Linked DNA regions of Homo sapiens: region 2 is linked to region 1. Evidence: fine-mapped expression QTL. A gene starts in region 1. The other region holds a variant in brackets. All regions are shown on one strand. Distances are between the middles of the regions.

Region 1 (5,379 bases):
CTTTGAATCAAGGGCAGAAGGCCTCTGGAGAAGGGAAACCATACAGAAACTACAGTGGAACAAATGTCATTTCTGAAACATAATTTACGAATACCAACAAGTTGGTATTCTCACAGTGGCACAGTGGCACTGAAAGAACATTTGCACCATTTGGAAAGCACTGAGGCTATTTAGTTTTTCAGAACAGCTGTCTCACTGAACTTTCCCCGGGCTCAACTGTCTACTGCCCATTTCCCTTTATGTCTCCTAAAGCCCCAGCATATGAGGATTTGGCACCTAGAACAAGGTTGAGTGTGACTGACACAGGAAATGGCCCGTGGCTGGACTGGCGCCTGCATGCAGCTGAATGGGGACACACAGCCAGGACTCAGCAAGGAAGCAGCTGTCACTCAAAGTGCTCAGCTCAATGTCAGCAGCTTGCTTGTTTCCTTATTCTTAGTGTCTTAACTGCACTTGGAAGGTAACACTAATGGTGGGACATAGTGTCACTCTGACTTAACCTTGTAGTTTGGGTAGCTCTGCAGGAAGAGGGAGAAATGGGAAGTAAATTAACATTCATTTAATATATCCCCCACTGTACTGAACACCATATATATATATGTAGACAGAGAGAGAGAGAGAGAGAGAGAGAGAGAGAGAGAGATCTATCTATTCTGCAATGGAGAGTGATTAAGATCACTGCCTGGGTTTAAGCCATGTTAGCTGTGTGGCCATGGGCAAGTCACTTAACTTCTCCATGTCTCATGTTTTTTTCTGTAACAATAACAATATTACCTATGTTAAGAGTTACTATGAGGATTAAATTAATTATGTGTAAAGCCCTTAGATCAGTGCTTGGAACACAGTAAGTGCTATACGTGTGTTTGCTGTTATACCCTTAGTAGTTAACTTCAACAAAGTCCTGTTCATCCTTTTATGACCGAGGAAACGGACACCCATGGAGATTAAGTCAATTACCGGACATGGCAGAGCCTGAAACCAAACTCAGATTTACCTGACTGCAATATTTTCTTCCCATAACATGACCGGGCCTGCTCAATGCTATCAAATTCCCTCTGCTGCTTGCCAGCGTAGGGTTCAGTTTATCAACCCTTCTTTGTACTGTCAAGAGTGAAATCCTATCTGACTGAGGCTCTTTTATCCCCATTTCTGATCAACCCTGGAGAAGGGCCAATGGTCAACATTTGGGGAGTCAGTGAAAGGAGAAACTTCCCTTTTCCATTCCCCCCTGTAAGCCTGATTGCCCTTTTGATATCGCCTATGTATCCCTATCAGAAGGCAGTGAATAACATAACTAAATAAATCATCTGATGGACAGTACCCTTAGAGCCTGGTGGATTTGGGGGAGCAGTCGGCCTCCGAGGGCAGCGCTGCCCAATAGGAATATAATGGGAGCCATCTGTGTAACTTTAAACTTTTTAATAGCTACACTAAGAATTAAAAAACAAAAGTGAAATTAACTTTAATATTTTACCTAATATATCAAAAATATTATCATTTCAATCTGGAATCAATATAAACACTATTGAGCTACTTTTTTGTATTGTGTTGAGTTCATGATTTACTTTAAACATACAGCCCTTGAAGTATATACAATGTTACTACAACAGCTCCTGGACACTTGCATATGTGTGTATTTTGCTTTTTTGTATTGTGTTGAATCCATTATGAATTTTAAGCACACGGCCCTAGAAATATATACAATGCTACTAAAGCAGCCCCTAGCCAGACACTTGGACATGTTTCCTTGATGGGCCTTCTTTATTGAGTTACAGACTTGATGTGTCTAAAATTGTACCGTCTCCCTTTTCTTCCTCCTTAGACAGATACTCTGATGGAAAAAAAAAATGGCTGAAAGAGTAAAGTCGCTTTTCCTCCGAATTTTCCCCATTAGTGCAGCTTGTCTGGACAGCTGCGATTTCTTGTTGGGTCACAGGGCATTTTTGACAATCTGCACGCTCTGCACTTCTCCCTCTGTGAGGTCAGGAGTGATGGGGGGGCACTTCAGGTTCTAGAAGGACTCAGGCCTCCTCTTGGACCCTGACAAAGTCCTTTCCCGTGCCTGGTTTCCACAGGGACGGTGTTGCCTGCACAGACGACAGCACCCCCGGCGGGGGAGAGCGGCCCCAGCGGAGACTCGGCAGGGCTCAGGTTTCCTGGACCGGATGACTGACCTGAGCCCGGGGCCCGGGCGGCGCTGGCCGGGCACAGGATGCGCGGCCCGGAGAGCGCATCCCGGCCATCCGCCCGCGCTCGGCCCCGCAGCGCAGCTGCTGCAGATCCGCGGGGGCCGCCACCTCCTCCGGGGGCTGGCAGCGACAGGACTCTCCCCGCCCCGGCCCGGGGCCCTCCCTTGCAGGGGCTGCGGGGAGGAGTCGCCCACCTGTCATCTGAGACGCCCCACGTGGGTCGGCCAGGGAGGGGGTGGAAAGGAGGGAGAAAAGGCAGAGGCGTCAAGGGAGGCCGGAGGGAGAGTGGGGTGGACAGAGGAGCGGAGGGACGAGAGGGAAGCGCACGATAGCTGCGCGGAGAGAGAGCGAAGAGCAGGCGGAGGAACAAAGGCGACCCAAGACACCCAGAGAGGGACAGGTAAGGAGGGGCAGGTGAGCAGGAAGGAGGAGAGAACCGGGCTAGGGAGACTGCGGAAAGGAGAAGTGGCGGGCGTGAGGAAACTGCTGTGGATAAGGGACGAGTAAGATGGAAAGAATGGCGGAAGACGAACGACCGCAGAGTGAGGGTCCTTCCAAGAGCGACCAGGGGGGAGGAACTGGGGCTGTTGCGCCCTTAAGGTTGCTAAGGCGACGGTTCTGGCCAGAGCGAGGCGCATTGACGTCAGTAGCCGAACGCTGATTGGCTGCGGCCAGGCCGTTTCCGGTGGAGCTGTCGCCTAGCCGCTATCGCAGAGTGGAGCGGGGCTGGGAGCAAAGCGCTGAGGGAGCTCGGTACGCCGCCGCCTCGCACCCGCAGCCTCGCGCCCGCCGCCGCCCGTCCCCAGGTGAGTGGGGTCGGCCGGGGGCTCAGGCGAGGTGAGCTTCGTCGCTTCGCAGCCGGTTTGCGGGAGCTGGACCGATCCAAGATGGCGTCACGGGGAGCGACCTGCAGGGGGACGGCCGCACCCCCTGCCCCTCCCCGGCCCGGCGGGCGCCTCCCCGCAGGCCTCACGCCCCCGGCTCCGAGTCTGCATCCTCAAGGCCGTCTGGGCGTTGGCTTTGGTGCGGGGCTCCCCAGCCGCCCCGCTCGCGCTCGCTGCCCCCACCCCACGGCTCCTGGGGCCCTGGGCCCTCCGCGGCCCTCCCCGGCCGCCTTCGCCCCCGCGCGCCGCGGCCTCTTCGCTCACCCTCCCCCATTTCCTGAAGGACAACGGCTCTATTTTACTGGGGTCCGCCATCGTCTCGTCCGCCGGTCCTGGCTCTTCTTGTAAGCCGGTAGTTTTCCTCTCCACTTTTGACGACTCGTCATTGCTAGCAGTAGCCTTTCCTCTTCATAGCGGAGTGATCTTTCCCCCAACACGACGGTCTTAGTCGGGCTCCTGAATTTCCTCTTGTCCCCTTTCACCTCTCTCCCTTTCCCAATTTTGCCCCCCTGAGGCCTCCTCGCCACCACTGTGGCCTTCCGACTGGCGTAGCTTGAAGTCTCGGCTTCCCTTCATTTTGTGGTCATGACCGTGGCCTACGTGAAGTGAAGGGCATTTTCCTGCCCTTCTTCTAGAAAATACACGGTACCTATTAACCTCTTCAGCTCAGAGCCTGTGGTGACGACCGTCCTACTCCTTGAGAGATTCCCAAGAGATCCGTCTTTTTAGCAGAGCGAGGAAAGCAAACACTTACTCAAGATGACCCTAGGGGAGCCGTAACTTGGCTGGTCTAAGGGGGTGCGGTCTGAATCAGGAACAGTTTCTCAAAGTGTTTTTATTTATTTCCCAGAATGTAATCCTTTCGAAACAATTTTGTCACAACTGAATTTTCAAAAGAATGAATCTGAGTGTTTTGTTTTACATAGAGACAATGCAGCGAAAGTTTTAAAGCAGTTAAATAATTGTGTGTGGGGAGGGAAGGCTAGGTTGTTGGGCTTTACAAATAAGTACACATAGAGAATCCGGGTAACTCGATTAAAAATATTAAGACTGTGAAGTCTGGTTATTCAGGGATTTACATGGTGACTGCATTAATTTTGGTACATTTCTGTTCGTATACTGTCCTATTACCGGTGGCTATCTTTTTGGTTTTCGTAATACATTAGTTGTTTCAAACAAAAACACAGTTTCACTCCTTAGGCCCAGTTCTCTCATCTCTACCAGCCAAAGACCTGATCTTAGAATGATTGATCATTTGAATGTTCTTAAAATATGACAATGCTTTGAAGCATGAAAGATCTGATTTATGATTGTTCTTGGTGGCCTTTAAGTATTATTTGAAATGCAGACAATTCTACTGAAGTGGATCTTCAGTTCATATGATTGCCTGACCTGGAGAAGTGGCTTGTATAAATCTATCCTAAAGTAAATGCGCGTTTTTGTTTTTGTTTTGCCTGTTTAAAGTAGCAGCATGATTATTTTTCCATGGCTTCTAATTTATGTGCTTGTCTTGGAGCCACGAACTTTCTAATGGTCTGTTAATTAGTCTACTTGTTGTTGACCTTTATGGTGAAAGTTGTCAAAACAAAATGAGTAACAGTGTAGCACTTTAGAATAGCTCTTTACTCTGTTAATTCTTTCTATAAGTTCTTTTAAATTTACAGTTTCATCTCAATAGTTTACAATGCATTATAATTGGAAAAGTCTGATTAGTATTGAATTCAGTTGCTGAGTGGAGGGGACCACACTCTTGTCTTCTACTCTTAAGTGCTTAGTAATTAGGAGTTGGAAGGAAAACAGTATATGACCCTGTTGTTAAATTAGTAAACTTTTAATTCTAGGGTAAGGTTAGCTGCTCATCATTATCTCTGTTTGCTTTACTTTACATAAAGGTACCATAATTCGAATCCTCTAAAATCCATTAAATGCAATTTATCCATTAAATGTAATCCATTAAATGCAATTTATCTATTGAATCTTCATGCAAGTTTGAAACTTAAGTGTTTTAACATTCTCCTGTCAAGATGAAGAAAATATTTTGACAATTTTCTGTCCAAATGTTTTACAGTTTATGTGGTAAGAATTCTCCCCTCCCCCAACTAAGGATTTTCCTTCTTTTACCACTAGTGTATTATCATTTAGGGGTGGAATCTGGCAAACGAGTCTGGAATAAAGGTTGCTTTTAAAACTCATCTAATTTTCTTGTGTGTTTTTAAAAATTTTGATTATGCTAGTAGTTGGCTAATCAGATCCTCACTCCAGTGGTTTGCTCTGTGACGTTAGGATACTCCCATGGGATAGAAGTT
Region 2 (5,379 bases), 42 kb before region 1:
CATGTGTCGGTATTTCATTTCTTTTTATGGCTGAATAGTATTCCTTTGAATACGCATATCACAATTTTATACATTTATCAGCTGAGGGACATTTGGGTTGTTCCCATCTTTTGGCTATTGTGAATATCATGAACATGTGCATACATGTACTTATTTGGTACGTGTTTTCAATTCTCTTGAGAACACTCTGAACTCCTAGGAGTGGAATTGCTGGGTCACCTGGTAATTCTATGTTTAACTTTTTGAGGAACTGCAAAACTGTTTTTCATAGCAGCTGAACCATTTTACATTCCTATAGCAGCATACAGGGACTCCAGTTTCTCCATATCCTTGCCAACACTTGTTATTTTCTGTTTTTTTGTTTTTGTTTTCCGAATTACTATAGCCATCCTTGTGGGTGTCATGAACACTAAAGTTTTATGAGATGCCTGCAAACTGCAAACCCTTGGGACATCTAACCAGTGCTCGATGCCCCAGCATTCTCACTGAGTCAAAGCCCTACTGTACTCTCAAGATCCCTGTGCTCATTCTGGGTCACACTCTTGACACCTGGACAATAAGTTTCAACACAGAGCTCTCTCTTTATGAAGCTCAAATGGGAGTTCAAGAACTCGATATCTGAAGCAGATCCCAGGCTTTCCTTCCTGGCCTGTTCTTTCCAATCTTATCTTTCATTCTCCTAGCTAAAATCTCTTGATATACCACCAGCTCTTTAGGTACACTGGGATATGATTGCTTCCAAACTTAGCTGCTTAGCTTCGGCCGGGGATCTCTATTATGCAGGGGTTGTTGTTGTTGTTGTTTGTTTGTTTTTGTTTGTTCATTTGTTTTGGAGACACGATCTTGCTCTGTCACCCAGGCTGGAGTGCAGTGGTGCCATCATGGCTCACTGCAGCATTGACTTCCCAGGCTCAACTGACCCTCCCACCTCAGCCTCCACAAGTAGCTGGGACCACAGGCACATACTACCATGCCCAACTAATTTATAGATATACATTTTTTTTAGAGAGATGATGTTTTGCCATGTCACCCAGGCTGTGATGGAGGTCCTTGTTAGGATGGAGAGTGGGGCCAATCATGCAGATGATACAGAAAAATAAACACTGAGGACCAGAAACTTTGGTCCCTTTGGCTGTAAGGAAAACCCTGTGTGACATCAAAGAGGGCATGTCTAGGAGGTATTTGATATCTGCATCTGGGGCTAAGGGTAGATATGTGAGATTGGGAGAGAGATCTAGGAGTCATTGGGGGAAGATGTAGTAGCTGAAGCTGTGAGAGGAGGCAGGCTGTAATGGAAAATGTGTCAGTTGGTAAAGAACTGGAACGAAATGTCCTGGTTTGACGTTTTGAGTATTCCTTTAATTTTAGGAACACTATCAGAAAAGAGGCTAGCTTGTGAGCTGAGTCGGCTGCAGCAGCTCTAAACCACACATTGCTGATGAGTGAGAACCTCTGTTATAAATGGAAATGTGAACTGGCAAATGCTCATTGGCTAAAGCTGAATGCACCAGTTTATTTTGGTACCTATTATGTCCATGATCTCCTATTTTCCTTATTGATTGCAAATACGCACGAGGAATAAAAAGCTGGCTTGCTTTCCAAAAACATGACTGAATGTTTTCACTGCTGAATATCTAAAGAGGGTACAGATTGGACCTTTCATTATTTCTCTGAGGTTAGAAATGTCCTTTGGTGGGTTTCTAATTTTTCATGAAAGGTCAGTTCCAGAGACTATTTACATGCTGTTAGGAAAAACATCAAGCAGACAAGACATATCTCAAAATATTTAAAGTGGCCCATTCCTAGGCTCTCAGCTCTTCTCTCTCCACTTCCTCTCCAGGGATCTGTTCCACAGATGGGGGCTTAAGTCAGCCTCTATCTATAGGTGACCCTTGTCTGACCTTATACTCTGGAATGCTCCATATGCCTCTGACTTTCATCCCAGGGAACATCAACACCCACTTCCGCTGGCATTCCTGATGGGATCTCTTTCTCCTGAGCAGTTGAAAGAGTCCTGCTTCAGTGACTCCCAGGGAAAATTGAGAGAGTCATTTTTTTAAAAAAAGAGATTTATCCCACACCAAAACAGGAATCACTCATTTTGCACCATTTTAGGCACTGTCTATTTTCAAGGTAGGCTGCTTTTTTTTTTCTCTCCTGTTCTTCCAATCCATGAACATAGTATAGATTGTTAAGTCCTTTTGAAGTGTAAAATTTCCCACAACCACATAGCTCAATTTCTTCTACCCCCAGGAGCTTTTTTTTCTTTTAATCACATTAGCCTGTGTATTTCTCCCAAAACAGTTATCAAAACTGAAATTATCTTGTTGATTTCTTGGTTTACATGTTTACTATCTG[C/T]CTCCTCCATCTAAAACAAAGTTCCATGAGGATGGGGTCTCCTGTCTTCTCCTAGCACCTAGAGCAATGCCCCCATGTATAGGTGCTCATGAAATGTTTGTTGGCTGACTGACTTACAGAATCAGTTGCTTAAATATCATACAAAACTTTCCATCATGAATGTCCTTTTTTTTTTTCCCTCTCTTGAGTAAGGATGTTGTCCTGATTTAACTAGCATTATTGACAAATGCCAATTAACTGTATTAGTGGCTCTCAAGCTTTTGGATGCTCTTTACACTCTTAAAAATTATTAAGGACCCCAAAGAGCTTTTGTTTGTATGGATTATATCTATCATTACTTAGTGAAATAGAAATTAAAACTGAGAATTTAAAATATTTATTAATGCATTAAAGTAATAATAAACCCATTATATGTTAACATTAATATTATTTTTTATACCCCCAAACATACAAAACACAGGGAGAACAGAGGCATCGTTTTTTGTTTTTGCATATCTCTTTCATGTCTGGTATAATAGAAGACAGCTGAATTCTTATATCTGCTTCTGTATTCAACGTATCATATCACAACATCATGTAGCCTTTGAAAAACCCCTCTGTGCACTTGTGAGAGAATGTGAGTAAAAAAGGCGAATAACATCTTAGATTTTTTTTTTTTTTTTGAGACAGAGTCTCACTCTGTCACTCAGGCTGGAGTGCAGTTGCGTGACCTCGGCTCACTGCAACCTCCATCTCCCAGGTTCAAGTGATTCTCCTGCTTCAGCCTCCTAATAGCTGGGATTACAGGAGCGTGCCACCGCACCTGACTAATTTTTGTATTTTTAGTAGAGGCAGGGTTTCACCACATTGGTCAGGCTGGTCTGAAACTCCTGACTGCGTGATCCACCCGCCTTGGCCTCCCAAAGTGCTGGGATTACAAGCATGAGCCACCGTGCCCGGCCCATCTTAGATTATTTTGTAAATAGTTTTGACTTCATAGATGCCCCAAGAGAGTCTTGGGTAAACCCAGGGATTGCTGAAGCACATTGAGAACCAAAGATTGATATTAGTGGAGAGGAATATTTTTCTTTGTCTTTGAACTACATTATCTTTAAACACTACTTTTCTCTTCGATATCCTTTGCTTAGCTTAATATTAAAATACATTTGCATTCCTCAAATCTGCCAAAGGTGGCCAAGATACATAGTGAGGAAGGGGTGATGGAAAAACAAACCAAAGGTTAATAATTCGTTGCTTTTATACAGACACATCCACATACAAACAAAAAAACAATAAAAACATGTGCCTTTGTGAAGCATGCACTGTGTGCTCTATATTTTCCAAAGATTATCTCTATTATTATATCAACATTTCCAGGCAGGAATTATCAGCTTCATTTCATAGACAAAGAAATGGAGGCTCAGAAAACCAAAATAATGTATGAAAGATTGCCAAGCTAATAAGTAATAGAGAGGTGACTGCCACCCCCAAATCTCTTTTCTTCCAAAAGCATGGCCTTTTTGACCATCAAATTCTAGATTACCACAAAATGGGAGGGAAAAACTCAGAAACAATGAAGAGTTCACTGTACACATTAGCCTTATTGTTTTGTATAAATGAATAAAAAAACTAACTCCTTTTTTTCTTCTAGTGATGTGTAAATTTAAAAATTCAATGCATTTTTTCCCCCAGATTTGAAAAGTAATACACCCACAGCAGAAAACTGAAAGACAACTAAATGTCCATCAGTAGGGGACAGGGTGGTTGCATTAATTGCGACACACTTGTGGATGCAATACTATGCAGTCATTAAAAAGAACAAAGCAGCTCTATTGGTACTGAAATAGAACTATCTCTAAGATGGGAAAAAATAAGGTGGCTCAAGTTCTACAGTATGCTGTCATTTGTATTTAAAATGTATATATGAATATGCACTGGTAACTGGTTGCTTTTGTGAATTCAGTAGAGGGACAAGCAGGAGGCAGCTTATTTTTCTGTAACCATAATCTCCTCCTCCCCCAGACATAGACCTTGATGTGTGGTATGGACAGAAACCCTAACTTTTCAGAGAGCAGAACCATCCAGCCATGTGTAACATCAAAACATCACTCTCACAGCCAATTCAAAATGGCTAAGCCCCTCTATTCTTTTCCCACCTCCTCCTTTCCGTTCCGTCTCTCTCTCTGCCTGAGTTGGGGCCATGAGAGGGGATTACTGGGAGAGGGGGGAGGTCTTCGCCAGGGATGTCCCTGTAGTACTTTCTTGCCTAATGCTTTTCTACTAGGGGAGCTCTCCAAATGTCTGCAAATGCCTGACTGTCTCAGAGGCCCCCCACTTGTGGGGTTATTCAGAGGACTCCCGTGAGACCTTCTGAATGGCCTAGTTTCTTTTCTTTTTTTTTTAGACAGAGTCTTGCTTTGTTGCCCAGGCTGGAGTGCAGTGGCGCGATCTCGGCTCACTGCAAACTCTGCCTCCCAGGTTCAAGCCATTCTCCTGCCTCAGCCTCCCGAGTAGCTGGGATTACAGGCACCCGCCACCACGCCTGGCTAATGTTTTTGTATTTTTAGTAGAGACGGGGGTTTTACCATGTTGGCCAGACTGGTCTTGAACTCCTGGCCTCAAGCAATCCGCCCGCCTGGGCCTCCCAATGTGCTGGTATGACAGGCCTGAGCCACCGCGCCCAGCCTGCACTGCCTAGTTTCTAATAGGAGTGAGGAGGTGTGGTTCAGCTGTCTTCTTGTGCTCAGCTCCTTCCCCAGTGCCCCACCCACACAACCCCTTTCTTCTGTGGCCCAGGCAGGTGGCAAGTAAGGCCATTCAGGATGGCTCCAGCCTTGCTAACTCCCCCAGCCTCTATGACTCTCGAAGCTCTCAGACCCTCACCTTGCCATGGGTGGAGAAGTCCTCCCCACACTACCATTTCCTCACCCCTCCATGTTCTGGGGGACACAGGTGGAACTCCCAGGAACTTTCCTGCTCCGGGCGTGTGAGTCTTCACTGCACTACCAAGTTTCCAATCAGGGCCAGTGACTTAACTTGCAG

Direction of the effects. Alleles are on the strand shown, and positions count from the first base shown. SD is a standard deviation of normalised expression in the study named.
With allele C in place of T in region 2, the expression in atrial appendage of the gene that starts at base 2,877 in region 1 is higher (small effect, 0.28 SD a copy in GTEx).

The links. PIP is the estimated chance that this variant, and not a neighbour inherited with it, causes the effect.
Region 2: its variant is fine-mapped to the expression of PRKAR1A in atrial appendage (GTEx, PIP 0.99).

What each region holds. Positions count from the first base shown.
Region 1 is chr17:68,509,554-68,514,932 of GRCh38, forward strand. PRKAR1A (protein kinase cAMP-dependent type I regulatory subunit alpha) reads left to right here and starts at 2,877. Exons shown (of 11, transcript NM_002734.5): 1 at 2,877-2,995. RefSeq lists silencers at 2,058-2,417, 2,838-3,347 and enhancers at 2,351-2,924, 2,678-2,767.
Region 2 is chr17:68,467,081-68,472,459 of GRCh38, forward strand. It overlaps a transcript of PRKAR1A not described here. Among named protein-coding and RNA genes, the nearest start is that of WIPI1, 12 kb to the left of the region's middle. The variant C/T (reference allele first, on the strand shown) is at 2,359.